5 separate regions of the Homo sapiens genome follow, and all the other regions are linked to region 5. Evidence: fine-mapped expression QTL. A gene starts in region 5. Each other region holds a variant in brackets. All regions are shown on one strand. Distances are from middle to middle.

Evidence for each region.
Region 1: its variant is fine-mapped to the expression of MYOM2 in whole blood (TOPMed, PIP above 0.99).
Region 2: its variant is fine-mapped to the expression of MYOM2 in testis (GTEx, PIP above 0.99).
Region 3: its variant is fine-mapped to the expression of MYOM2 in ovary (GTEx, PIP 0.99).
Region 4: its variant is fine-mapped to the expression of MYOM2 in liver (GTEx, PIP 0.98).

What each region holds. Positions count from the first base shown.
Region 1 is chr8:2,137,935-2,143,039 of GRCh38, forward strand. MYOM2 (myomesin 2) reads left to right here. Exons shown (of 37, transcript NM_003970.4): 33 at 2,789-2,952; 34 at 3,207-3,243; 35 at 4,441-4,463. Among named protein-coding and RNA genes, the nearest start is that of MIR7160, 64 kb to the left of the region's middle. RefSeq lists an enhancer at 1-363. The variant G/A (reference allele first, on the strand shown) is at 2,380.
Region 2 is chr8:2,173,205-2,178,309 of GRCh38, forward strand. All of the region lies in intron 1 of LOC105377781 (a long non-coding RNA gene), which reads left to right. Among named protein-coding and RNA genes, the nearest start is that of MIR7160, 99 kb to the left of the region's middle. The variant A/G (reference allele first, on the strand shown) is at 2,399.
Region 3 is chr8:2,934,285-2,939,389 of GRCh38, forward strand. CSMD1 (CUB and Sushi multiple domains 1) reads right to left here. Exons shown (of 70, transcript NM_033225.6): 70 at 1,077-4,460. The coding sequence ends at 4,301. The region is part of intron 6 of LOC105377785 (a long non-coding RNA gene); the gene reads left to right. Among named protein-coding and RNA genes, the nearest start is that of LINC03021, 210 kb to the left of the region's middle. The variant T/TTGTA (reference allele first, on the strand shown) is at 1,939.
Region 4 is chr8:2,114,996-2,120,100 of GRCh38, forward strand. MYOM2 (myomesin 2) reads left to right here. Exons shown (of 37, transcript NM_003970.4): 26 at 965-1,109; 27 at 1,221-1,280; 28 at 2,890-2,957. Among named protein-coding and RNA genes, the nearest start is that of MIR7160, 41 kb to the left of the region's middle. The variant GA/G (reference allele first, on the strand shown) is at 2,270.
Region 5 is chr8:2,043,023-2,048,127 of GRCh38, forward strand. It overlaps MYOM2 (myomesin 2), which reads left to right and starts at 2,024. Exons shown (of 37, transcript NM_003970.4): 1 at 2,024-2,146.

The DNA of each region.
Region 1 (5,105 bases), 95 kb after region 5:
CACACGCCACGGTTTGGGATTGAGTGGCTAATCCACTGCCTGGTATATGTTCTGTGCAAGGTTTTTCTTTTCTGCAGAGCTGAGAATCACCATGTAAAGTCTAATTTTCCTTTTATACACAGGGATGAGTAGGTCTGAGTGCTGCAATGGCCCATCAATCCCTTTAGTAATAGCGACCTGCTGTGAGCTCACAGGACGGCTGGTGTGGCCACTGATGCTCACCTGCCCTCAGACACACCACGGATGGAGACTCTGGCAAGTCCGTGTTGCCTTTAATGTAAGCGCCAGCCTGCAGCTTGCAAACATGGCACTCTCGGCCCGGCCGGCTCTGGCTGCTGAGTGCTGGGGCCTGGGGTCATGGCCTCATCGCTTCTGCTTCCCTCTCCTGCTCCCCAGGCAGCCCATGCTGACTGTGGACTGAGAGCAGCTGGGCGGAGCCTGGGGCTCTGCTGCGGGGTCAGCCTTCGTGAGGCTCCCAGGTCAGCAACGTATAGAATTCCAGATGCGGGACTGAGAGATTCCTGAAGGATTGCCTGGTCCGATTCTCCCGCCTCTTTCCGGGGAGGGGCAGATTATGGGAAAAGGGAGCTAATTAACATATTGTGAAGGGCTAAAGGGGTCACTTTTACATTATGTGCATTCTAACACAGTTTTTAAAAGTTTAGATAGAACCAAAGTGCTCACACTGCCCTGCCTTCTAAGGCGGCACGAACTCGCTCCCACATCGGCAACAGGTGAGGCCAACCTGATTATTGTAGACAAATGTGTGTCAGTTATGTTCCAAAGTCGCTTCAGTAGATGTTGAGCATGTCTTCTTGGATTCTAAAACAACCGCACATGGGCAGTGTTAGATCCTCCCTTCTCTGTCCGGGATCCCAGAGGCTAAGTCTCAGGGTGAAGCCAATCCCACAAAACCATCCCTGGGAACAGCCATTTCGGCCTCTCTGGCTTAGTGTGCGCCAGGATCCCACTGTGCCTTCACAGAACTCCCACTTTCTATCCGGACAGACTCAGTTCCGACACACACTGCCAGCACCACCACCAGAGACCCGACACACACTGCCAGCACCACCACCAGAGACCCGACACACACTGCCAGCACCACCACCAGAGACCCGACACACACTGCCAGCACCACCACCAGAGACCCGACACACACTGCCAGCACCACCACCAGAGACCGGGACGCAGAGCCAAGCATTTATTTTTACATATATACTTTTTGAGACAGTGTCTCGCTCTGTTGGCCAGGCCGGAGTGCGGTGGTGTGATCACAGCTCACTGCAGCCTTGACCTCCTCGGGCTCAGGCAGTCCTCCTGCTTCAGCCTCCTGAGTAGCTGAGACTACAGGTGCTTGCCACCACACCCGGCTAATTTTTTTATTTTTGTTGAGACAGGGTCTTGCTTTGTTTTCCAGGCTGGTCTCCAACTCCTGGGCTCATGTGTTCCTCTTGCCTTCGCTTCCCAAAGTGCTGGGGTTACAGGTGTGAGCCACCACACCCGGCCTGAGCTGTGCATTTATTATGGGCTTAACATATATTTGTTGAAGGAAAGAATAACAGAGAAAAAGGCTATGATGGTGAGGAGGGCTGGAGAATTCCCTTTCCCGATGGAACATAGGCATTCTTGGTTGCCGGCAAGGGTAAGGAAAGATGCCACAAGCACCACAGCTGGCTCTCTGTGCAACTGACCCAGCCTGCTTCCCCAAGCTGCGGCTGTTCTGGAGCTGGTGCCCGAGAGAAACAGGTCCACATTCCAGCTCTTGGGTGGCCCTGGAGTCCGTCCTGTTTTCATGCACCTGTGACTATGACTTCCACAGATCTCTCAGGCTCCCTCTAAACTGAAGTAATGTTAGGAAATAACTTATACACTTTTGTCTGCAGTAAACAGTTTGGCCTTATATGTTGCAGATGTGGAACCTTAGAAGGCGGGAATGTATGAGCACCTTGTTTTTATCTAAACTTTAAAATATTGTAGCATAATACACATAATGTAAAAGTGAGCATTTTAACCACCTTTAAGGGTACTGTTCAGTGGTGTTAAGTACATTCACATCATCGTGCAGGCACCACCACCACCCAGGACCTTTTCATCCTCCCACCCGAAACTCTGTTCCCATTAAACCCTCAGTCCCCATTCCCCTCCCCCAGCCCCTGGTACCCACAGTTCTACTTCCTGTCTCTGTGAATCTGACTACCCTAAGCCCTTCATAGGAGTACATATTTGTCTCTTTGTGACAGGCTTATTTTACTCAGCAAAATGTCCTCAGGGTTCATGCACATTGCAGGAGGTGTTGGGATTTCCCTCATGTATTTATGGACCACATTCTACTGATCCATTCATCACCAATGGACGCTTGGGCTGCCTCCCCACCGGGGC[G/A]GTCGTGAACGATACTACGAAGGATGTAGGTGTGACAATATCTCTCCAAGACCCCGTGTCCAATTCTTCGGATCTACACAAGTAATTGCTGGATCATGTAGTAGTTCTAGCTTTAATTTTTTGAGGAACTACCATACTATATAGAGTAATGTTAAGTCCATTATGTCGTGACAAGTATATATTACATAATAATATACCTTTAAAAATTAAGTATCATTTAATTTTAGAAAGTTTTCAGATCTGAGTTACTGATGTGGTCAATACATTCGTAACAGCCAGAATAATCTATTGTGACATTGGCATCAGCAGCTTAGAGAAGGCTGTCACAGCAACGGGACATTGCCCTGTAGACATTGTGCGTGTGACATGGAGACCCTAACTCAGATACGTTCCTGTTGCTCTTTTCAAGAGATGCTAAGATCTCATCCAGTGAGCATATGAGAATCGGGGGGAGTGAAGAGATGGCTTGGCTGCAGATATGTGAGCCGACTGAGAAGGATAAAGGAAAATACACTTTTGAGATTTTCGATGGCAAAGACAACCATCAACGCTCCCTTGACCTGTCCGGACAAGGTAAGAGAATTCTTCTTTAGCATTTAATAATTTCCTATTTAGAAATCCATTTAGATGCTGAAGGGAGGGAATACAATATGAATACAAGAGACAATATGAATTTACAATTTTCATTTAGAGAAAATGAAAAAATAAATTTATTCTTTTTTTATATATCAGTTTTCATGAACCAGATTCACTGGTATAATATTTGAGTGAATAAATAAAATCTGAACACTGAAATGGTTAGTAACGTATGAACTATTTCCTCACAGCTTTTGATGAAGCATTTGCAGAATTCCAGCAATTCAAGTAAGATTTGTGTATTTAGTTACTATGATATCCTGTGGGCAGTTGAGTCCCAGTCGTTTTGGCTGCATGTGGGAATCTGTATGGAAGCCTGGGTGACCTAAAGAAAGAGCCATTCCTGGGACAGAAGTGGGAATTTAAGCAATGCAGTATATGGAGGGGTGGGCATTCTCCTAAACCAGAAATGCATTTATAAACGGACTGTCCAGAGTCATCGGAACCCCGGATGAATTTCGGAAATCATTATTGTGAGAGTTGAAGAAAGAGAAAAGAAACACGCAAAGCAGATTAACAGTCAAAGACAGGTTTATTTTGGAGAATAAACCTGAGTGGGGCTTTTGGCCGATTTCGGTCAGGAGCGCTTTCTTTTACAGACTAAGGGTATTTAAGGGTTCTGGCTCAGGCTAGGAAGGTTTCTGTGTGGAGGAGAGTTTTATTGTGAGGTTGGAATACCTCTGGTTGGAGGGGAGCTTATCTCAGGGTTGGAATGTTTTTGATTGGAGGGCAGGTTATGCCAGGGTTGGTATGTTTCTGGTCGGAGGTGTCATTTGTGGTTTATGGCCATGCTGACATTAGCCCTTAAGCTGATGTTTTTGGGCTGGACTTAGGCGGTTTCTAATCAAGGAAGACTTAAAATGGCGATGCTAGTCCAAGATGGCGGTGCTGCTGCTCTGCCAGTCATCATCAGGGCAGCACATCACACACAGCAACTTTTTAAGGACAATTCGGGGTTTTCAAATGCACCATCGAGTCTTCGCACATCCGAAGCTGACCGCAGTCCTTGGCCCATGCTAGCTTATTTAATGAACATTTGTTGACTGGGTGCAGGGATGAGCAAGATAGATCAGAAACTGACAAATTCCGAAAATATCTCAAGTCTCCAGTGCAATCTAGTGAATTTGTGAAAAAAAAAAAAATCTCTTCAACCTGTGAGCTGGAATGCTAAACTTTTCTGTGGGTTTTAGCATCTGGATAATAGGGCATTTTCCACCTCAAAATGGGCAGTGGGAACCATCAGGAAAAATCAGTGATATCCATCCTGGGGTCCTGTGACCCGAACATGTTCTTCTAAGAGAATGCAAACGTATCTCCTTCTTCTTTTGCTTCATCGCTAGTGAGCCTCTCAGCTGTGCATTTTGTTGGAAGCATTTTCTCATACTCTCTTTTCATTCTCTCCTTTCTGTCCCCTTTAACTTTTAGAGCTGCTGCTTTTGCAGAGAAGAGTAAGTACCTGTTGGATTGTAACCAGGATGGTGAATTATTTGGGGTGGGGCAAAAGTGTCCATATTTTGGAGGACCAACTTTGTGTATTAAATAATAACCAGCAATCCCCCACCCTGATGTAACAACGCCACCAACACCACACCCTGTCCTGGAGCCCCATGTCCTGCACCACTGATCCTTGCACTGCTTTCGGCCTTAGCCCCGTCACCCCTTGGACACCCTCCCTCCCTCCTCCCTTGCAGAACCTGCAGCCCAGACACCCAGGGCCACTTCACTTTCTTTCCCTCCCTTCCTCCCTCCCCTCCCCTTCCCTCCCTCCCTCCCTCCCTCCCTTCCTCCCTTCCTCCCCTCCCTCCCTTTATTCTTTTTTTTTTTTTGACAGAGTCTTGCTCTGTCACCCAGGCTGGAGTGCAATGGCATGATCTCGGCCCATTGCAACCTCTGCCTCCTGGGTTCAAGCGATTCTCCTGCCTCAACTTCCCGAGTAGCTGGGATTACAGGCACCCGCCATCATGCCCGGCTAATTTTTGTATTTTTAGTAGAGACAGGGTTTCATCATGTTGGCCAGGCTGGTCTCTAACTCCTGACCTCAGATGATCTGCCCGCCTTGGCCTCCCAAAGTGTTGGGATTACAGGCGTGA
Region 2 (5,105 bases), 130 kb after region 5:
AAAGCCAGAGGACTCACAGACATGTCTGTGGTCCCGTGTGTGCCTGTACTGTCAAAATGAAGGCTCGCGATAACCCAGGTTCCTGGGCTACCGTCAAGGGTTTTACTGTGCCTTTTAGGAGACCCTCAAAAGTCTCCTCTTGCCCTTCAATGCCTTCCTTGAGGCAATTAGCTATGGGGCTGAACATCCCCAGGTGGTCAAGATAACCTGAGAGGAACCAAATCTCATCGTGTGTAATGAGGGCTTCTTCCTTCTCTTCAGGGACATATGTCTTGGAGGAGTTCCCTATCAGTTTGTAGGACGAAAGAATGGTGAGAGACATGGGAAGAGAACAGCTGATCGGATCCCGGTCCTCTTCCTCGAAGCATCCATGGAAGGCTCTCGAATGGCTGAATGTCAGGGGTGCTTCATCAGCCTCACTAAAGATGGAGGAGGAGAGGGGTCAAAGCTGGGCTCAGATGAAGCTAGGACAGTGTGGCAGAGCCCTGGGCTCCCTGCGGGGCATGGGGAAGCCTCTGAGGATGGCTGAACCTTGTGGGGAGGTGAGATTTCCACCCGCTGGTGTCCCTGCTCCCCTCCCCTGTATGACAGTGTGAGAGGGGAACCATAGCCGGCTCCTTAGCTTTCCACTGGTAAAATGATCACTAACTTGCCCTTTGGGTGATAATTTAACTCACATCTTAACCATACAGTTCCCTGATGCCTTAAATCAGTGGTCCCCAACCTTTTTGGCACCAGGAACCCGTGGAAGACAATTTTTCCACGGACGGGGTGAGGGGGATGGCTTCAGGTTGACTCAAGCACATTTACGTGTATTGGGCACTTTATTTCTATTATTATTATTACATTATAACATATATTGAAATAATTATGCAACTCACCATCACATAGAATCAGTGGGAGCCCTGAGCCTGTTTTCCTGTAACTAGAGGGTCGCGTCTCAGGCTGATGGGTTGAGGACCCCTGCTTTAAATATCATCACCATTTAATTCCTTTAAAAACATCCATGAAGCACGGACTCGAGCCAGCTATTGTTTTGTTTGCTGGGGCGTAAGCCCACAAACAAGCCCCGTCCCTGCTGCTGAGGAAGGCCGTGCATTTGTGTCGCCAGGAAGCAGAGTGGCTTCCTGCATGTGCGCGGCTGACCGTGACAGAGCCTGGCACAGATGTGGAGAGGGGAGAAGTACATCCCTCCAAGACACCCGGGAGGGCCTCCTGGAAGAGGGGCCCAGGGTGGCTCAGACTCCAAATGTGTGGGAAGTTGAATTGGAGGGAGAATTGCTGTCTAGGAGAAGAGCCTGAGAAAAGTCAAAGAATTGTGGGAAAATTTCCCAGAGATCATGGATAATTCAAGACTGAATTTTGTACCCCCACCTGGTTGGCATCAGCTGCTGGTCTGTCAGCTATTCTTAGCAGAAAAAAAAAAAATCCCAGACAATATTGTCTATATTTCTCAAAAAAGCCCTTGCGTTTTGAATGGATATTATTATATCACACCTTAAATTAACAGGGAACCATTTCAAATCCCCATTTGAAGTTTTACTTTACATCAAATTCTCACTAGACTGAAAGATCCCCGAGAGTGGGGAGACATTGTTTGCTTCTGTTTATAGAGGCTCAGTACAGTCCCTGGAACTTGACAAGTACTAGCTGTGCTGGCTGAATGGACGCACATACTTTATATGGCGTCTGGTGACTGTCTCTGACTTTGCAAGGTGTCATGTTTTCTCTACTTTGAAAGGGTTGGGTTTGATCAGTACTTTCTCAGTTTACTCAGGGAGTCACTTACACAGCACAGCCACCATGAATAGCGAGGATCAACTCTCCTTCCAAGATTTCCTGTCGCTGAAGACAGCACCGCATGGATGTATTCATCCTGTCCATGGACTATTGACTGATTCCTGTTTTCTCTTTTCTTTTCTTTTGAGATGGAGTCTCACTCTGTCTCCAGGGCTAGAGTGCAGTGCTGCGATCTCATCTCACTGCAGTCTCTGCCTCCCAGGTTCAAGTGATTTACCTGACTCAGCCTCCTGAGTAGCTGGGACTACAGGCGCCCACTACCACGTCTGGCTAATTTTTTTTTATTTTTAGTAGAGATGGGGTTTCACCATGTTGGCTAGGCTGGTCTCGAACTCCTGACTTCAAGTGATCCACCCGCCTCAGCTTCCCAAAGTGCTGGGATTACAGGCCTGAGCCACCGTGCCTGGCCCCACTTTCTGTTTTCTATAGTCAAGTATGCATTAAGTAATCCTGATGCACCCATGTATCCTGAAAGCAGGTGTTTATCTTGCTTGGTTAACGTGAGAGTAGCATAAGGTAGACACCACAGGTCTGGTTCAGGGCTGCCACACATATTCTCTGTTCCCACGTCAAAGACTTCACTGACTTCCCTTGGTCA[A/G]CCAGAGCATAAGTATGCTTTTTGCTAATGACAACAGATGAACAGGAGGTCATCAGCTGAGCAGAAATTATGGTGAGTGTGTTTCATACCTGGGGCCCATGGCTTTGTAATCACTTAGGTTTTTAAATTATTTACATTGTATTTCACCAATGTGCCCTCTTATAGCCCCTTTTTACTTTAAGTACAGTAGTTGGGAAACTAAGTGACTCATAAGAAACTGAAATTAAAATAGATTTGTATCAGGAGAAGCTGACAGTTTGGAGTTTGATAGTCGATAAAAACTTGAAAATTTCTTTCTTTTTATTTGGCCCTGGGGCATAAAGTATTTATTGAGCTGACAAACTCAAGCTGATATACTACAAGAGCATTTCATCAATAATATCTCTTTTGCTTATCCAGTAAGTAACCTCAGTATTAAATAGAGAGGAAAAAAAATCACTTGGTGAAGATATCCACTCCCAAACAGCAATAGATGGAAAAGGTTATAAATCCAGTTACGATTCAACTAAAGACTAATTGGACCGCTTTCATAAGAACAGATGAGACTTCCTAGCAAGGCAGACAATTGATCGTGCCCTGTAATTCCAGACAGTCCTTCTGTCAGAGATGCTGAGAAAGGTCCCACTGAGTCAGGACCTGCCACTGGAACCCTGCGCCTGGCAGGGAAGGGACCCCAGAGGATGAAGGGCAGGGACTTGGGGTACTGACTTGGCTATGCAATGACCTAATTCTCTAAAAAAATGCAGATTTTGTCATGCCTTATGTCCTGAATCTGTGAGTATCTCTGTTCTATGTGATAGTGTAGACCGTAGATGCTAGAGGAGCAGCAAGTTGTTTAAACATTTTAAATAAAAAGATCAGGTAATAATATTAGGATCTCTTTAGAATTTAGCTAGAAATGAACAGATTTGAATCATCAATGCAAAAAGATCTCCCAATGAATATATTGAAAAATAGTATCATATTGCAATTTGGAGTAACTATTTTCCCACTTAAATAATTTTATTTTACCAGTTTTGTGTAACGTGAGGATAGTAAATCCTTTTTAATCTACATTTTAATGTCATTTTGAGGACCCAATACGATGCTAACAAGTGGTTCCACAATCTCAAACTTCCATGTGTGAAATGTTGTATGTGAGGATTTTATCCCTTCCCCAGCAATACTGACACTTTCCAGTAAAAAAAAAGATACCAGTTTAGAATTTCTCTACTCTGTAAAATAAAAATAGGGAGAATATGTACTTTTGGCCGCCTTGAGAGGGAAGGAGCTCTTTCAGAATATTGTTCCTTCGAAGTTGACCCTCCTTGGTGAGGCTGGGCATGCCCAGGGGCAGGGGCTCTGTCTTTCCTGCACAGACATTCCCATCGCAGAGCAAATGCAAACATTGAGAGAAGCCACAAATGGTTTGTGTGTGTGCTGCTGCAGTGGAATGCACTGTCTTTATTTTAAAATTATTTTTAATTTTTGTGGGCACATTGGAGGTGTATATACTTATGCGGTACATGAGATGTTTTGATGCAGGCGTGAAAGATGAAATAAGCACATCGTGGAGAATGACGCTTCTATGCAATAATATGTGTCTGGATGCTTGTCACAAGTATCTAGCCCTTCGAGCATTTATCCTTTGTGTAACAATCCAATTATACCGAGTTCTTTTAAAATGTACAATTAAGTTCTCACAAGTGCTTTTAATGAGTAAGAGATGATAAAGGCAACATGCTTTTACAGGTCCAAAATGACTGAAGTTGTGATTTGTAATGTGGCATTCCCTCTATTGTGTGTAAGGTCAACACCATTCTATTTTGAATAACAGAAACACTATTATTATTATTACCTTTATATGGCTCACCTTGATTTTTGGTCCTTCTACACTACTTTTTTCCTGTAGGTGATTACTTTTTGGCTGGGTGCAGTGGCTCACACCTGTAATCCCAGCACTTTGGGAGGCTAAGGCAGGCAGATCACCTGAGGTCAGGAGTTTGAGAACAGCCTGGCCAATATGGTGAAACCCTGTCTCTACTACAAATATAAAAATTAGCTGGGCGTGGTGGTGGGCATCTGTAATCCCAGCTACTCGGGAGACTGAGGCAGGAGAATCGCTTGAACTGGGGAAGCGGAGGTTGCAGTGAGCAGATAGCACCATTGCATTCTAGCCTGGGTAACAGAGTAAGACGCTGTCTAAAAAGAAATTTTTTTTTTTAACTTTTAAGCTCAGGGGTGCATGTGCAGGTTTGTTACATAGTTAAAATCATGTCATGAGAGTTTGTTGTACAGATTATTTCATAGCAGGTGTTGAGCCACTACCCAATAATTGTTTTTTTCTGATCCTCTCCCTCCTTCCACCCTCTACCCTCCAGAGGGGAACAACCCACACTGGGGCCCAGGGAGGGTGGTGGGCGGGAGGAGGGAGGAGGGAGGGGATGAGAATAATAATGGTTACTAGGCTTTATACCTGAGGCTGAAAGAATCTGCACAACAAACTCCCACGGTGCGAGTTTACCTATGAAACAAACCTGCACATGCACCCCTGACCTTAAAAGTTAAATAAGAAAACCAAAACAGCCACAACAGCAAACACTGTGTAAGTGAATATGAAGAGTGGAAATTCTTGACGCCTTTCCTCCTTGTGTACACGTGAGCCTGTGCCGAATCGCAGGGGTGGTTTCCGTGCTGTCCACTCGCCGTCCGCTTCAGTGTGTGAGGA
Region 3 (5,105 bases), 890 kb after region 5:
GTGAAAATTAGTAATAGAGAGTACTTATTTCCCTTTGAATTCTTAGCTTTGGTAATTATTTACTCAATGAAGCAAAAGAAGATTCACAGGTAGAATGACAGAAAAATTCAGAAAAAAAATTGGATAAGAAAGGGAATATTGGATGCATTTCATAATGTGACGGTTTCTTGAAAAATGAGAAAGTTGAAGCAAGAGAAACCTGACCTGTAATATCAGCTCTGCCTATCTGTGTGTCGTTGGGTAAACCAACCAACTTATTTAACTTCCTGCTTCTTCATCTAAATTATCAAAGTGGCAAAACCCTCTCGGTTGGATTATGGGGGTTTTGCAACGTCTGCGAGTCACAAAGTGCAGTGTCTCGCGCTCGGTATTTCCTCAATAAATGGCACCTAAATGCAGTTGCTGGCCAGCAAGACTCAGATTGCAAGTTGGACATCAAAACTTGGTCGCTGCGAAGCCACCGTGGGCTATTTTGGAAATATTATTGGTTGTTTTTCATTTTGTAATAACTTGACTCTCAGAGAAAGTAGTGTATCATTCTGTTGAACTGCAAGACATTCGGCGTGATGGGCCACCAAGGACGTGTAAAGCATTGTGTTTTCTGTCAGCCCAGAAATGAACGGGGGACCGCTGGTTCTGAGTTTAAAAAGCGGTTTGATTTTTTTGAGCCTTCTTTAAATGTGTTATTTGGAGTGCTCTGTTAAGTAGGTCTATAATTCTCTTTCATGTCATTTTTTTAGTGTGGTGAACGTTTACAAACAGAGCTCCCAAATTGAAAAGAAATCATAAAAAAACATAGGTTTTGGTTTGGAGGAAACCAAGTTTTCTTACCGTTTTTAATGTGAACCATCAAGAAATCTGTCAGCTTCAACGTTACTATTCTGTGTCTCATGGTTCCTGCTAAATGTGCTATTGATTAATCATGACGATGATGTGAATGTCGTGGGAAAAATATGGAGCTTCATTTTGAATATCCTAAAGGCTCATTATGAAGACTCCCATTCCTTCCCTCCCCTGCAAGGGACTCAGGTGCGCATATTAAAGTGAAAATAAATTCACACAGAAAAATAGAAATCTAAAATTAAATATTTAATTAGAACTCTGATTTGCTTTAAAGATTGGTGGCATTGCACAGGCTATATTACACCCTCTTTATAATTTTTTTGACAAAAAAAAGATACTGTTCATTTTAACAGGCCACTTTAATATTAATACATGTGTAATAGGATTGGAACTGAAAATCAGCTAGAGATGGTACATTTTACATTATTGGGAAAATTACAGTTCTGTATTGTAAAAACATTTATTTTTTAACAATGTACCTACATTAATCAAAAAATTACAGCATATTTAATAATTTTACAAATTCTTCATAAAAAATATATCTCTGTACAAAAAGGTCTTTCGCACCTACGTCGTGACAGCAGCGTGTGGTGGGACGGGAGGGAGGGTCGGCGATGACAATGGGTTTTCCTGATCATAATGCCAGCGTTCTTTTTTTTACCCCCTTTTTATAATAGCTTTTTGTTGTTGTTTACAAAATATTTTACAGAAGAAAAAAATTATTGCAGCTAGCCTGAAAAAAGGCAAGATGTGTGTGTAAAACAAGCAGCAGTTTTAAACAGCTCTGAAGCACGTGTCCTCTGTTAGTGTGTGGTCGCGTCCCTCACGCGTGTTCCCGTTGCCTTCAGGGAAGAGTCTTCTAGACCTAACTCAGCAAGCACAGCTCCTGACTGCCCTAAAATGAGATCCTCCAACACCTTGCGGAGACGCCGTTCAACACTGCACACAACCTTAGGAAGAAACTAGGCAGAATTCTCACACGAGAATTTCACTGATTTTTTTTTTCATTTAAATAACATGCTTCAAACTGGCAACCCTAGGACAGTTTGACTTTGCACACAAAGGAAAATCATATCTAATTTGATATGTGGTTTC[T/TTGTA]TGTATGTATGTATGTCCTGTCATTTCAGGATTTCATAGCATCGTTGACCAGGGAGCAGGTCAGGGATATGGGAACAGAGATGTTAATTCAGACTCTGAAGTCAGCATTTTGCACCTAGTTTGAATGACTCAAACTTAGATATGTACAATATATATATATATATATGTATGTATATATATACACTAATATGTATAGTAACCCTGTTCTCCCTTGCACACGAGCCTCCTCACACTTTCAATCATCTTCTGTTTCGTTCAATGTGTGTGTTAGGAGCACGACTCCCGCTGACCTCGTCCCGTCTACTGTGAAACAGCAATGTAAGGATTCCCACTGGCAAAGCAAATCTCCAAGGATGTGGGCAGGTTGGCCAGGGAAAACTGTGCAGAGAATTCAGCATAATGATACAGAATCCAACAGCGTGGGGTTCACAAGACAAAGGAGTCCCTAGGAGAGGCCAGTGAGTCCCCAAACAGCAGAGACCCTTTCGACCGAGGAACACAACACTGGGAGCCGAGCTCTACGGAAATGTCCGAATCAAAACGCGTGACTCTCCAAAGAATGCCCCATTTTCCTGACTGCTTTTCCTTTTCCACATTTGAAGTCCTACATGGAAACCTTCAGTACACCAACAGATAAATCAGTCTTAAAGCTAGGTGTCAATGTGTTCACTCCGACAACGTGAAGGCCAATTTGAACATTCTGACATTTCTATTACCAACGCCAATCTAAAATGTGAAACAGAGAAAATCTGCCACAATTGAATAGGAACTGAAATATCAAATAATAAAATAAGTACTATCGTTTCAAAAATATTTTTATCAAATAAGTATAAGTAAAAGTAAACATGATTTTCACTTTGAATTTGTTACATAAACTACCTCACGGCCACATCTTCTACTTCATGTTTTGATTTTTATTTGCCCTGGGGATCTTATAGATTTTATTTGCATCATAACTTATCATTTACCTATAATGGAATTTAAACTTGAAAAGTCACTGAAATTACCTTTCCATCTGGAATCATAAAGCATGAAACAAATAACAAATGAATGTATAAAATATATCATTGTGAGAGGAGAGTGTGTGTACTTTTTCCTTCCCTCTAAAAGAACACTTGGTATTTTGATCCTGAACAATTTTCACTGAGTTCAAGGTGCTACTGTGGTATATTGTCTTTCAATGCAATATCAAAGATCGATGGCACAGTAAAAGACAAAAAAAAAAAAAAACAAAAAAAAAACACTGCAAAAGGGAAGGCTGCATTGTGAGCTAAAACCCACAAGTTCATCGACTATCTAAAATAAATTACTATTCACAGTTTTACATGGCAAACAGAAATTTCTGCAAACCCCCTGCTATTAAGTAGTATCAGAGAGACAGTAATTGGATGAGGATGGTACTAAAGGAGGAAAACGTGTGAAATAAGGAGGCTTCTGTTTTTTTCTCATTGGACCTCTTCAATGAATTCAACACGTAAATGGAGCTAATTGAAGCAATAATAAAATAAATCTCTTCAATACTGTATTTCCTTTTAAAATCTGTGCCATATCTAGGAATACTTTTCCCTAACACTCCAACTAAGCTGATGGGGGAATGTTTAGCTTGATAATATGAAATAATGCTTATATACAATGGATAGTGTGTATAAACCCTGTGTAAATAATTTATTTTTTTTATCAGAATCTTAGTCATTCATAACACACTAGTGCAAAAAATTGTGCATTAAACATTCTGCGACAGAACAGCTGACTGGGAAATTGCAAACATCCCTAGAGATGAACACACAGGGGAGCTGTGAGGTCCTCAAAGCTTGTCAGGTCTCGGAAGGACAGAGTGAAGCATTTGTAGGTGTGAGCCTCTATCAGAAAGGTGTCTTCTTCCAGAAAGCTTTTTATTTTTTTCAGAGTATTCGTGTTCATGGGGGTTTAAAAAGGAAAAACAACACAAGAGAACACATATCGTGGTGCCACCATTCTGTCACCGCACCTGAGGGACATATCCACGAGCCCAGACGATTGCATTGAAAGGCATCTCAGCAACACAGAAATATGAAAGTCTGAGGCATTGAGTATGACGTGTTGGCGCGACGTGGCAGTCTTCCTGGAGTGTGCCTTGATTTCATACAGATGCAGCCAGGCATTTAGAACCCACTTTTGGAATGAAAACGCATGTGTAGTTTGATCCGTAGAAGACCCTGACACATTTGAGTAGAGATCCCCGCTGCACTTATGCCAGTAGACAAGGTTGAAGATCGCTGCAGTAAAGCCAGAGTGGAAGGGAGAGTGGTATATGGCACCAAAGGAATCACTGCTTGTCCATCAGAGGTATGGCTATGAATCAGTCCTGTTGGGGCACTGAGGGCTATACCACTGTACAGACTGTGTTCAGAGTTGTGTCAAACCTCACAGCCTTGGCTTCTGTGGGTTTTAAGTTTGTATCATACATGGGGTTTTCAAACGATGCTTGTCCATTGCTGTTTTCATGCCCAGCATAGCCATTGTATTGAACTTTTGGTCTCGTTCTAAGGAAAACAGAAAACAAATCATTAGAATCCTGGTTTCATTTGCAGATTTAGCAGCTGGGACTGTGTGCAGGAGACAACGTCTACAGAGCAGGGAGCAGTATAGCCAGGACGTTTGCAAAGAAGGAAGGCATCCACACCTGCACACCTGTCAGTTTATTTGCTTAAATTGGTGATTGGGAGTATAAAATGGGTTTTAAAAAGTGAATCGATTTCAAAAATTAAATAAAATTTTTTTGAGACAGGGTCTCACTCTGTTACCCAGGCTGGAGTGCAGTGGCACGACCACCACTCATTTCAGCCTTGACCTCTTGGGCTCAGGCGATCCTCCCACCTCAGCCTCCTGGGTAACTGGGATCAAAGATTTACTTATGCTTCCTACAAATGCCCCAGGGAAATCGGGAAGGTCCCAAAGGCTGAATCGGATTGGTTTTGTTTTGGATGTCTATTTATCACTGATAAGTTATACGGCCTTGGTTAAGACACGAAACTTTCTACTACTCTGTAAAACAGGGTTGTGGGCATATGCCTAGCCTTTAGCACGGTATGCTTACACTAAATTTCAAGTTTAAGCTTTTAGTTCACTGTCGTTACTAATATTCACAAAAAGTTATTTTTTATTTTGCCTCTGTTGAGTTAAAAATG
Region 4 (5,105 bases), 72 kb after region 5:
CAGTTCTAAAAATTACACAGGCTGATTGATGTTTTGAAAGGTTTCATTAGAATTAGAGTTATTTAAGTGAAAAAGTGAAATTTAAGTATTAATATTAATTTATAACTTTAATAATTATCAAGAAGCACAAAAAGGTAAAAATATCAAGCCCCCAAATAAGGCAACCAGCAAAAAAAAAACAAAAAACAAACAAACAAAACATAAAAAAGAGAAATAAGCATTAATAAAGATGGGGAAAATGGTTTTAGTGAAGTTAAAAAGTTAATAAGTAAACATCACAAAATCAGAGGGAAACAAAAGATCAAATTTGCTCAATTCATCTGTGTGTTAGAGAAACACTTGTTCTTTGACTTGTAGGATTACCTAAATAGAACACATTCATATGTATCTGTGCATGTACTGTAGAATAAAATGAAACATTTAAAAAATAAAAGCGATCAAAAAAGTCAACACCTGTTGGAGGTCCATTTATCCTTTCCTCACCTGAAACCCCTGCACCCTGATGGACCACAGCAGGCTGGGGCTTGTGGGTGCTGTGTCCCGGGAGCTGAAGATGACAGTGGCTGTGGAGATTGCCTGTTGTTGCTATCCATGTGGGATTTTTGTCATCAGCTGGTGATCGTTATCATTCATATCAATTGCGTATCATTTTATTTTCTCCTGTGAATTTTATCTGCTTCACGTTAGTAACTCATTCTTGGGTAGGTGTGGAGTCTCTGCCTAGAAGGTCCCTGGTTTGGACTCTCAGATCTCCTCACACAGCCAGGCTTTGTCACTGAGTGACAGCTCATACCCACTGTTTGATCCTTGTTCACCCAGAGGTTTCCTTGATAAAATTTCATTTTGGTTTCTTCCTATCATAATCCCTTGAGATCTCATGGCTGATGCAATTGTTAAATGTTGCAAGGGAAAACTAGGAGAGATTTCCTTGTATAATTCTCCATTTCCCTTGTTTTGCTTGCAGATACACAGAATTAAATGTGACAAAGCTACTGGCATTATTGAGATGGTGATGGATCGATTTAGTATTGAAAATGAGGGGACCTACACTGTGCAGATTCATGATGGGAAAGCCAAAAGTCAGTCTTCTCTAGTTCTTATTGGAGATGGTATGCTATATCGAATATTTCCACGTCCATACAAGATAATTCAAATGAAATTCTTTTGACTGGAGAGAAGCAAACATGTTTCATATATATTTTTTTAAATATTGAATTTAGCATTCAAGACTGTGCTGGAAGAGGCTGAGTTTCAAAGGAAAGAATTTCTCAGGAAACAAGGTGAGTTTCCTCACTCTGACCGGCTCCCCTGCCCCTAGCATAAAGCAAAGATGATTGGAGTATTTGTCAGAAGCAGATCTTGCATGATCCCAAGCAACCCTAAAGGCTGTTTTAAATGATTAAGAGGTTAGGCTTACCAACTGCATAGGAAAGGAACCTGCTTTATAGCAGGGGAGTGAAGAGGAAAGCGTGCCTCTAGCTTTAATGTCCAGACGGAGTCCAGCAATTTTAATGAAAAGAATAAAGAATGGGGGTAGAGGAGGTGGTGGCTTCATTTGGCTTTGAAATGTAGAGAAGGCAGTAGAGGCTATTCCTATCACCAGGAAATTGCTCATTCTACTTAAGATTGTGGGAGCTGTTAAACTTTCTAACTACAAACAATATGTTTTAAATAGATTGCTTTTACAAATACATGTTAACTAGATACAAAGGAAAATGGATACACTTTAGATTCTCAAACATACCCCAAGGGTTTATTCAAAGAATTTTTTTTCTTTTTTGAGATGGAGTCTTGCTCTGTTGCCCAGGCTGGAGTGCGGTGATGCCATCTTGGCTCACTGCAAGCTCCGCCTCCCGGGTTCACGCCGTTCTCCTGCCTCAGCCTCCCGAATAGCTGGGACTACAGGCGCCCGCCACTATGCCCGGTTAATTTTTTCTGTATTTTTAGTAGAGACGGACGGGGTTTCACCGTGTTAACCAGGATGGTCTCGATCTCCTGACCTCGTGATCCGCCCGCCTTGGCCTCCCAAAGTGCTGGGATTACAGGGGTGATCCACTGCGCCCAGCCTCAAAAAACATTTTTATATATGGGATTTCTGAACTTCTTGAGAAAAATTAGAATGTGAATTATGAAACATAAAATCAAAACATTCATTTTTATTATTTTTCATTGTTTTTATTTCTAATAGTCACAAATATTTTACTTACTTCTACATTATGAACATTTTTGGGCCAACTTTGTAGGATGTATTTATGTATATGAAAGAAGT[GA/G]ACACATACTTTCCAAATCTGCTTTGTATTTTTGCATTGAATGGCAAAAGGGTATTAGTGTATGACTTATTCCTACATGTATTTTAAATAAAAATGATTAACATTTTTTAAAAACATATATAAACCTGTCTTTGATTTTGAATGCTATCTAAAGAAAATGTGTTTTACAAAATTGCTAGGTCAAACTGTTGTTTCTTTATCTCATATCTATTCTCTTATTTAAAGGTATTATTTACCATGTTGTCGAATGTTCAGTTAGACATATACTTTGGGAAACAAAATATAATTATTTCAATAGCCTCCTTTCTGAAGAGCAATAGATATGAGATGTCAGTAAGAAGGAGCCATCAGACGTACGCTCCTACCAGGAAGCACAGATTCCAGTGGAGAATCAGTGTTAACACGTGTCGACATCCCAGGCCTGAAAACTATCTCAGTTTCATCCTCCACAGCTATTGTGTTCTGCCAAAAATGCATTACATAAATATATATAATACATTCTTATGTATTATATATACACACCATGCATATATGTGTGGGTATATATATATAATAGCTATATATTTATTTGTTTACTTTTTCCTTTTTTATATGTTTTCTTCCCTTTTTTCCTCCCTAGGCCCTCATTTTGCTGAGTACTTGCACTGGGATGTCACGGAAGAATGTGAAGTTCGACTTGTTTGCAAGGTGAGAAACCCGGTTCTAACAGGAAAACAATAAATCTCATTCTGGTTCCTATCAGAGAGGCCTTTCAGGGAGTAGCTGTGGCCAGATCTGTGATGCTGGTGAGGAAACGTGTGGTGCCTGTGTAGCTGCGGATGGGCGGAGTGGCTTTTGGGTCCTGTGGACTTTTTAATACTTGGACTTCAGTGCTTATCTTTTCTTCTTCACGAAAAGATTACAGTGTAGTGGGATGCAATGGAAGGTTGGATTATAAAAATTTTACTTAAACGATTATTAAGTGAGTTTATGAGAAAGTGTGCCCTGGTGAAATACACCTAGAAGTGCTGCTCATACGAGTTCATCAGGAAAGGAAAGGCATGCTTTGGAGACAAGATACTTCTTTCAGTTTCGTTTAACAATGTAGTAATGAAATATGTTTTATTACTAAATATAAAAATCTGTTTTTTAAGCAGCAAATCTTCAATTTAATAACTGCCTACTATTTGACTGTCTCAGGATGAGGGGATGGGGGAAAAAGATCAATAATGCATTGTTTTTACTCCCAAACTAGTTTCTTATTGTCTACTGGATAAGAGAGAAAAGTAAACAGACAGTTTCAATAAAGAGATGATTCGTGAGCTGCGTGTGCCAAGGGGACTAAGAATTATGCAGGCCAGTGAGTGGGAAAAGATGGTTCTAGGAAGATCCAGCAGCAGGGAGGGACAGAGAAGCTGAACTGTGCACTTAAAAATAAAAACAATAAAAAACCCAAGGCTGGTGGGCAAGTGGGGCATTCCCCTGCAGGACCCAGAGGCTGGCCATGGACTGAGAGGGTACAGAGCACCTGAGGGCTGTTAGTGCAGTGACACGGGCTGCTGGTTGACAAGGAAGGCTGGAGGTGGCAGGGCTGGAGGACGACGCTTCAGTAGGCTGCTGAGAGATGGTAACTCCAGCAGGGCAGTTTCATATCCACCGAGAGAAGGAGATTTAGGATACACATCCAGCAGTTAAAACCAGCAGGGGCTGGCAAGTAGCTGGGTGTGGGTGAGAGGGAAGTGTACTGGAGGACCGAGTGGGTGTGATATTTCTTGAGATCAGCACTGTACGGGGAGGGCCAAGTTTTAGGGTTTTGAGAATACATTCAATTTCACAAAGATTTAGTTATATCCGTGGAATGGTCAGTAAGGCATAACCGGCTCACGACAGGACATGTGAACCTGGCAGCAATGGGAAAGTCATCTGGAGCATGTGGATTCATGAGATATCGTGTGTGGATTCATGAGGTATTGGGAATGCTTGGCTGTGGACATGACGCAAGTGGGTCAAGCTGCCAAAGGACAGCCTTTAGAGACAGGAACATCACAAACAATTGGGGCATTCTGGAAAATTCAGATTGTCAGAGGAGAAGAGGAGACCAGCTCCAGGATTATTAAGCAGAAACCCTCAGAGAGTTCAGAGGGAAAGCAAGTGACTTGGTGGCCTCTGGCAGGGAGGGACTTTGGAGTGAAGCGCTGCGTGGCCGGGTGAGGAGGGGCGGCTGGAGGCAGCGCTGCATGGCCGGCTGAGCAGGGACAGCTGGAGGCAGCACGGGCTGGGTGCTGGGCTTTCCAACCCCACTCCCTGGCAAGGCAGGGTCTCTACGTGGTGGGCTGAGGAGATGGGACACAAGGGGGGATACGAGCAGGAGCCCGCTGCCCTCTGAGGTGCTCAGCTGGCAGTGAGGGAGAGCGAGGGGAGTCAGGGTGGCTTTGTCTTTCCTTCTGGATGGAGACGCTCAATCCTATTTATAGGCAGAGGGGTCAGTGGAAGAGGACTCACAGGTGAAGGAAGGGGAGCACATGGGGACACAGGAGGGGCAGTGCTGGCCTGGAGGGAGATGAGACCAGGTCAGCACAGCCATGCAAGGGGCTGCTTGGCCCCCAGGGCAGCTCCCTGTGAAGGACAATGAGGGGGCGGGGGGGATGCCAAAAACCAGGGCAGAGCAAGCGGCAGATCCATCAGTGCAGCCCGTTGGTTTCACACTCTTTCCAGTGAAGGGTTGGAGGGTGTTGAAGATGAGGAAGGTAGCCCACAGTGGGGGGAGTGGCAGGAGTGGGCTGTGATTGCCACTGAAGGAGGCAAGACAGCAGCTCCTTATTAAGAATGGAAATCATTGTTGAGTGCATCAACGTG
Region 5 (5,105 bases):
TACGAGGAGGGTGGGGAGGGGTCTCCTGTCCCCAGCAGAAGGCGAAGCTCTGTCCCCATCAGGAGCCTATCTGTGTCCCGGGTCACACTCTGCTCTCTGGGTGGTGTGGCTGAAAGATCCAGGCTTTCTTAGACGCAGCACTGGATTTCTATATCACAGAAGGAGGGCACAGCCACCGTGAAATGTCAGAAAAGGAGGAGGAGTGTGCTGGCCCTTCCTTCTCTCAGGAGAGGCCCCTCCCCGGGATGAGATTGTCCCCTCCTGAGATGCTAGGACTGGGACCCAGGCGACTGAGATGCCAGGACTGGGACTCAGAGGACTGAGATGCCACCTGAGGGGACGAGGCACCATCACTGCCCCTCCAGTGTCGGCCACACTCAGAGGCAGGGGGGCAGAAGGGCTGAAGGGAAGTCCCCCAGGTCCCTGAGAAATGGATTCGCTAGAGAAGGAGATGCTGATAAACCGGAAGTAAACATTGCTTGCTCTGGTCTTGCTGTTTGCAACCCCCCCAAAATATGTGGGTTAAAACCCTAACCCCCAAAACGATGGTGTGAGGAGGTGGGGCCTTAGGGAAGTGACAAGGTCATGGAGGTGGAACCTCCCGAGTGGGATCAGTATCCTCATACAGAGGCCCCAAGAGCGGCCTGGCCCCTTGACTTGGTGAGGACTCAGGGACCGCGCCGTCCCAGAACCAGAAGGCTCTCCCCAGGCAGTGTCTGCTGGTACCTGGATCTTGGACTTCCAGTCCCCAGAACTGTGGGAAAGAAGCTCCTGTGTTTTATAAGCTACACGGTCTATGGTGTTTTGCTAAAGCAGCCTGAATAGACTAAGAAATCACTCAACAAACACTAATTAAATTAAATGCTAGGCCATCAGAATACGAAGGGGAAGAAGACAGAAACACTCGCCTCCTGATCCAGCATCCAGAACGCTCTGGGGCCCAGCAAGAGGCTGTGCTCGCGTCTTTCTCGTATCTGATCTTCGCCTCCATCCACCTGCTCGCTGGTCCTTGGCTGTGCCTCTGATACCCCAGTGTGAGAACGTGGAGTTTCTTAAGGCAATTCTCTTATCATATTTTCTCTACTTGTCACAACAAACTTACAGGAAAGTTGTTATTCCATGCGTTTTAGAGCTGGGGAGCATAGCCCCCGTGGGCTGAGCAGCTGGCCGAAGTCCTCAGCCCCTGTGGTGAGGTGCAGCTGGAGTGTGATTCTCCGGGTCCTCAGATGGGGGCATCCCCTTGAGGCCCCGCCTCTTGGCCAGGCTGCAGCCCAGGACCGTGCCAGGTGTGTGTTATCTATATTTGGACACACGCTGTGCGAAACGACGGGCACCCTGCAATTATCCGTGTGGTGTAGACGCAGTGTACGTCTGTGGTAATGGCTATAAATAAGCCCCGACTTGCCGACTAGGCACCGCTCCTCTTTTGGGTAGGCAGTTCTTGCTAAAATAGCCCTAAGATACAATCGAGTGAAGACCTGAGTCGTTCTTGAAATAAAAAAAAAAAAACGAACAAACACACGAACATGCACACACACGCTCACAAACCCAGGGGCTTGTGCACCTCCCTCCCTCCACAGCCGACCTCAACTCGGGTGTCCAGGCCTGCGAATGGCACAAATGCTCACTGAAATCCATGTCATTATTAAAGACTCATTCAGGAGTTGCAATTTGTGAGCCAGGGAACCTGTAGCTCGAAAGGATTGAAGATATGTCTGAGAATTCACACGTAAGGATTAGAACTCATGGAGGAGAGTTGCGGGGAGGGAGCGTGGGAAGTCAGTGCCCTGCCCTCTCTTTCTGGGTCGGGGGCTGAAGTGTCACACCCGGTTTCCTGGGAAAAGTGCAGTTTGGGACTCAGAAAGGACACGTTCCAGTTTTGAATCGTGATTTCCCCCGCCCTCAGTTTGAACAAGAAGCTTTTCCTCCTGAGGTCAGGCTGGTGATTTACGATGTGGGTATTGATGTGGGGAGAGGCAGGCCCAGGCGTCTATATATAGTAGCTCCTCAGACCTTAAACGGGAGGGAGGCACAGGCGCTTGCTTTGCAGGAGTCAGCTCTGCCTTCCTCGGCTGGAGTGTGGGTGGCTTGGTGAGCCGGTGGTCAGGAATTCTCTCTCCTCCTTGCAATTTTCCTTTCTGTCTGGGTAAGTGTCTTTCTCTTCTTGCCTTTTCTAATTTGTGGCTTTAAGGGGAGGACCGGTAACTTCTGCACTCACATTTTCTAAGTACCTCTACTTCAGGGTCAAGAAGAGAGAGCCAGTGCACCCCGTCGCAGGCACCCTTTACTGTGGAAAACAGAGCAATTAGTTCTGGGATCTGTATTTCTTTGACGAGGTTTTATGCTCAACTAACATTTTATTTCCCACAGCCGTGGTCTTTGCTAAGTGCCGTTTAGCACCCTGCGGCGTGTGCTTTGGGTTTTAGCCCTGGTCTCATCGTGGCCCCAGGGGGCCCCCCAGTCAGTGGACTGATGTCTGCAAGTTTCATGAGATTCTCAGAAACGAAAGCCTCCCCCGAGGAGAGGGCTGACTTATAAAGGTGTGAAATAATAAAACTGGATATTTTCTTAAGGGAAAAAAGAGTCGAGGGTCATTCAGCTTAGACCTAGCCTATATTATCCACGGTATGGGAAAGAGAACAATCCTTGTCAGGACTTGCAAGTTTTTGCCCAAAAATGACAGCGTTCTTACGGCTGTTTTCTTCTTTGTGCTGTTGGGTGTGTTGTGACCCTTCAGACTTCTTCAGCTCCACTCCGCTGATAGAGGCTGTGCCTTCTCAGGGCGTGCTCTTGAAATGCAACCTGCTGGAGAAAGACAGTGGGGCTGGGTGGTTGCACGTGGAAGGCACCGGAGGCAAACGGAAGGAAGGGGTTTGCCATCACTGGGAACACCTGGCCTTTTCTAATTCTCCATTTCACATTCCTTTCTTACTAAGTAGAAGTAAAACAGGACTCAAAGAAAGCGTGGAACAAAGATAATTTAAGGCGTTATTTAATAAACCAAGTCCCAAGCTAAAACTTGTCTTGGGAGCCAAGGGCTTAGCCACTTGTGGCACAGGCCAACGCTGCGTGTCTGGGAGTCCCTTTCCCCTCTAGAAAGCTTTAATTTGGTGTATTTATTGACTTTGACATTTTTAACTGTACAAACAATTTCCTTCATTAAGTGGAAGTCAATGTTTTGTACTTCAAACATTTTTGCAAATTAAAACCCATCCTGGTGACATGAGGAATGGGCTCCACACGTTGTTTGCAGGAAGGAATTAGGATGGGGATATCAGACACGTGGTCCCCTGCACTGGAGGAGAGGCTCGCGTTTCATCCTGGTGTCATGATTCCTAAACGTGTCAGGAGCATTCCGGGAGTGGCCGGGGAGCTGGGCTGTGGTGGAAAGTGGGCTGGACGCTGTCAGGAGAGTCAGCTGGCGCCTGGGTTCGGCCGTGGCCCTACCGGTGACCCGGGCAAGTCATATTTCCCTGGGGACGGTCTGTGCTAACAGTACAGCGTGGCGCCAGGATTATCTACACACAGGCTGTCCAAGCTGGGGGACTGTTAGCTGCCACCTCACTCAGCCCCCTGTTTTACAGCAGAGCAGGTGGAGGCCCCTGAGCTGAAGGTCAGCAGGTCCCCACTGGAGTCTCAGCCTCCCAATGCGCCTGAGCCCCAGGGACTCACATCAAAAACTACCCTGCGAGGAAAAGCTGCTTTCTTTCTCTCTCTCTTTCTTTTTTCTTTTTTTTTTTTTTGGTTGGTGTGTGTAGGGGGTATTTAACACATGTCTGAGATAGTTCCTTAAAAAGGAAAACAGCTTTCTATGTAGACAGTAGAGGGACATTGGGGAGCTGATCGGCCCAGGTCCTGTCATTTTCTTTATAGTGTCATAAATAGTACAGGTTGATCATTCCAAATCTGAAGATCAGAAATCCAGAATGCTCTAAATTCTGAAACTTTGTGAGCGCTGGTATGACTCTCAAAGGAAATGCTTACATGAGCATCTCAAGTATCCAATTTCTGGATTTGAGTTGCTCAACCAGTAAGTATAAATGCAAGTATTCCACAGTCTGAAAAACAAATCGGGAATTGGAAACTCTTCTGGTCCAAGCATTTTGGATAAGGGATGCTCCACCTGTAGGGTGCATTTGGCAAGTCCTCTCCAGGGTTCCCTCCACTCAGAAGGGCCCTGTGCTGCCAGGGCTGCAGGCACCCAGCACGTGCTGAGTCAGTGGGGATTTGCTTGCAAAGACGTCATCACACCCGGCCAGGAGGTGGTGGCCCAGGCTGGGTGAGGGACACTGGGGAAGTTCTAACATAGGAAGTCCCCCAAGGAGTGAAGAGATTGCGGAGGGGACACACATTCAGGGTGGGTGAGGCTGGACGTGCAGTCCTGCTGGTTTTCTGGGTTGGGCATGTGATTGATAAAAGTGGAGTTGAGGGCACATTGGCACTGGGAGTCAAATGCGCAGAAGACTTGAGCTTGCTACTCTCCCGAGCCAGGAGCTCTAAGGTGTTTTCATTGTTGAAATCCAAGGGTTCTGATTTAGGCTTGGCTGGCACGTTGCAAGTGACCCCATACTTGTGGAATCAACTGAGGCTGATGGATTCTGCAAAGCCTCTGACACCTCCTGATTTTGGTGGTCCTGAGCATGAAGTGAGCAGGGAATACATGTGGGGATAAACGTGGCAAAGTGCCCTGTTACCCCCATCCAAAGACTTCCCGGGGAGACTTCCACAGTAAGGTACCATTGGAGTGAGGATTGCAGGAAGTGTGCACACGTGATCCCAGCTCTGCCTTGCTAAGCACTACAAAGTGTAGCCCCTCACACATGAAGTGTTTGAAGACTTCCAGGCCCACAGGACCGGATGTCACGTCAGTGATACATAGGTTGCATTGGACAGGACGTTACAGACTGGTTGAAGGATAGCTAGTCTGTGAGCTCTCAAGACCTGAGCCGTTTCACATTCTTCCAGGTCTTAGGTCTAAGGAGGAGGATTTCCATCCAGGGCGATTCTCCTCTTATTTCAATGTAGCTCATTCTCTCCTTTGACCTAATAGGTCACATTTTGACTCTTCCCTTTACCAAGAAATACAAACACATCTGAGGTTTAAC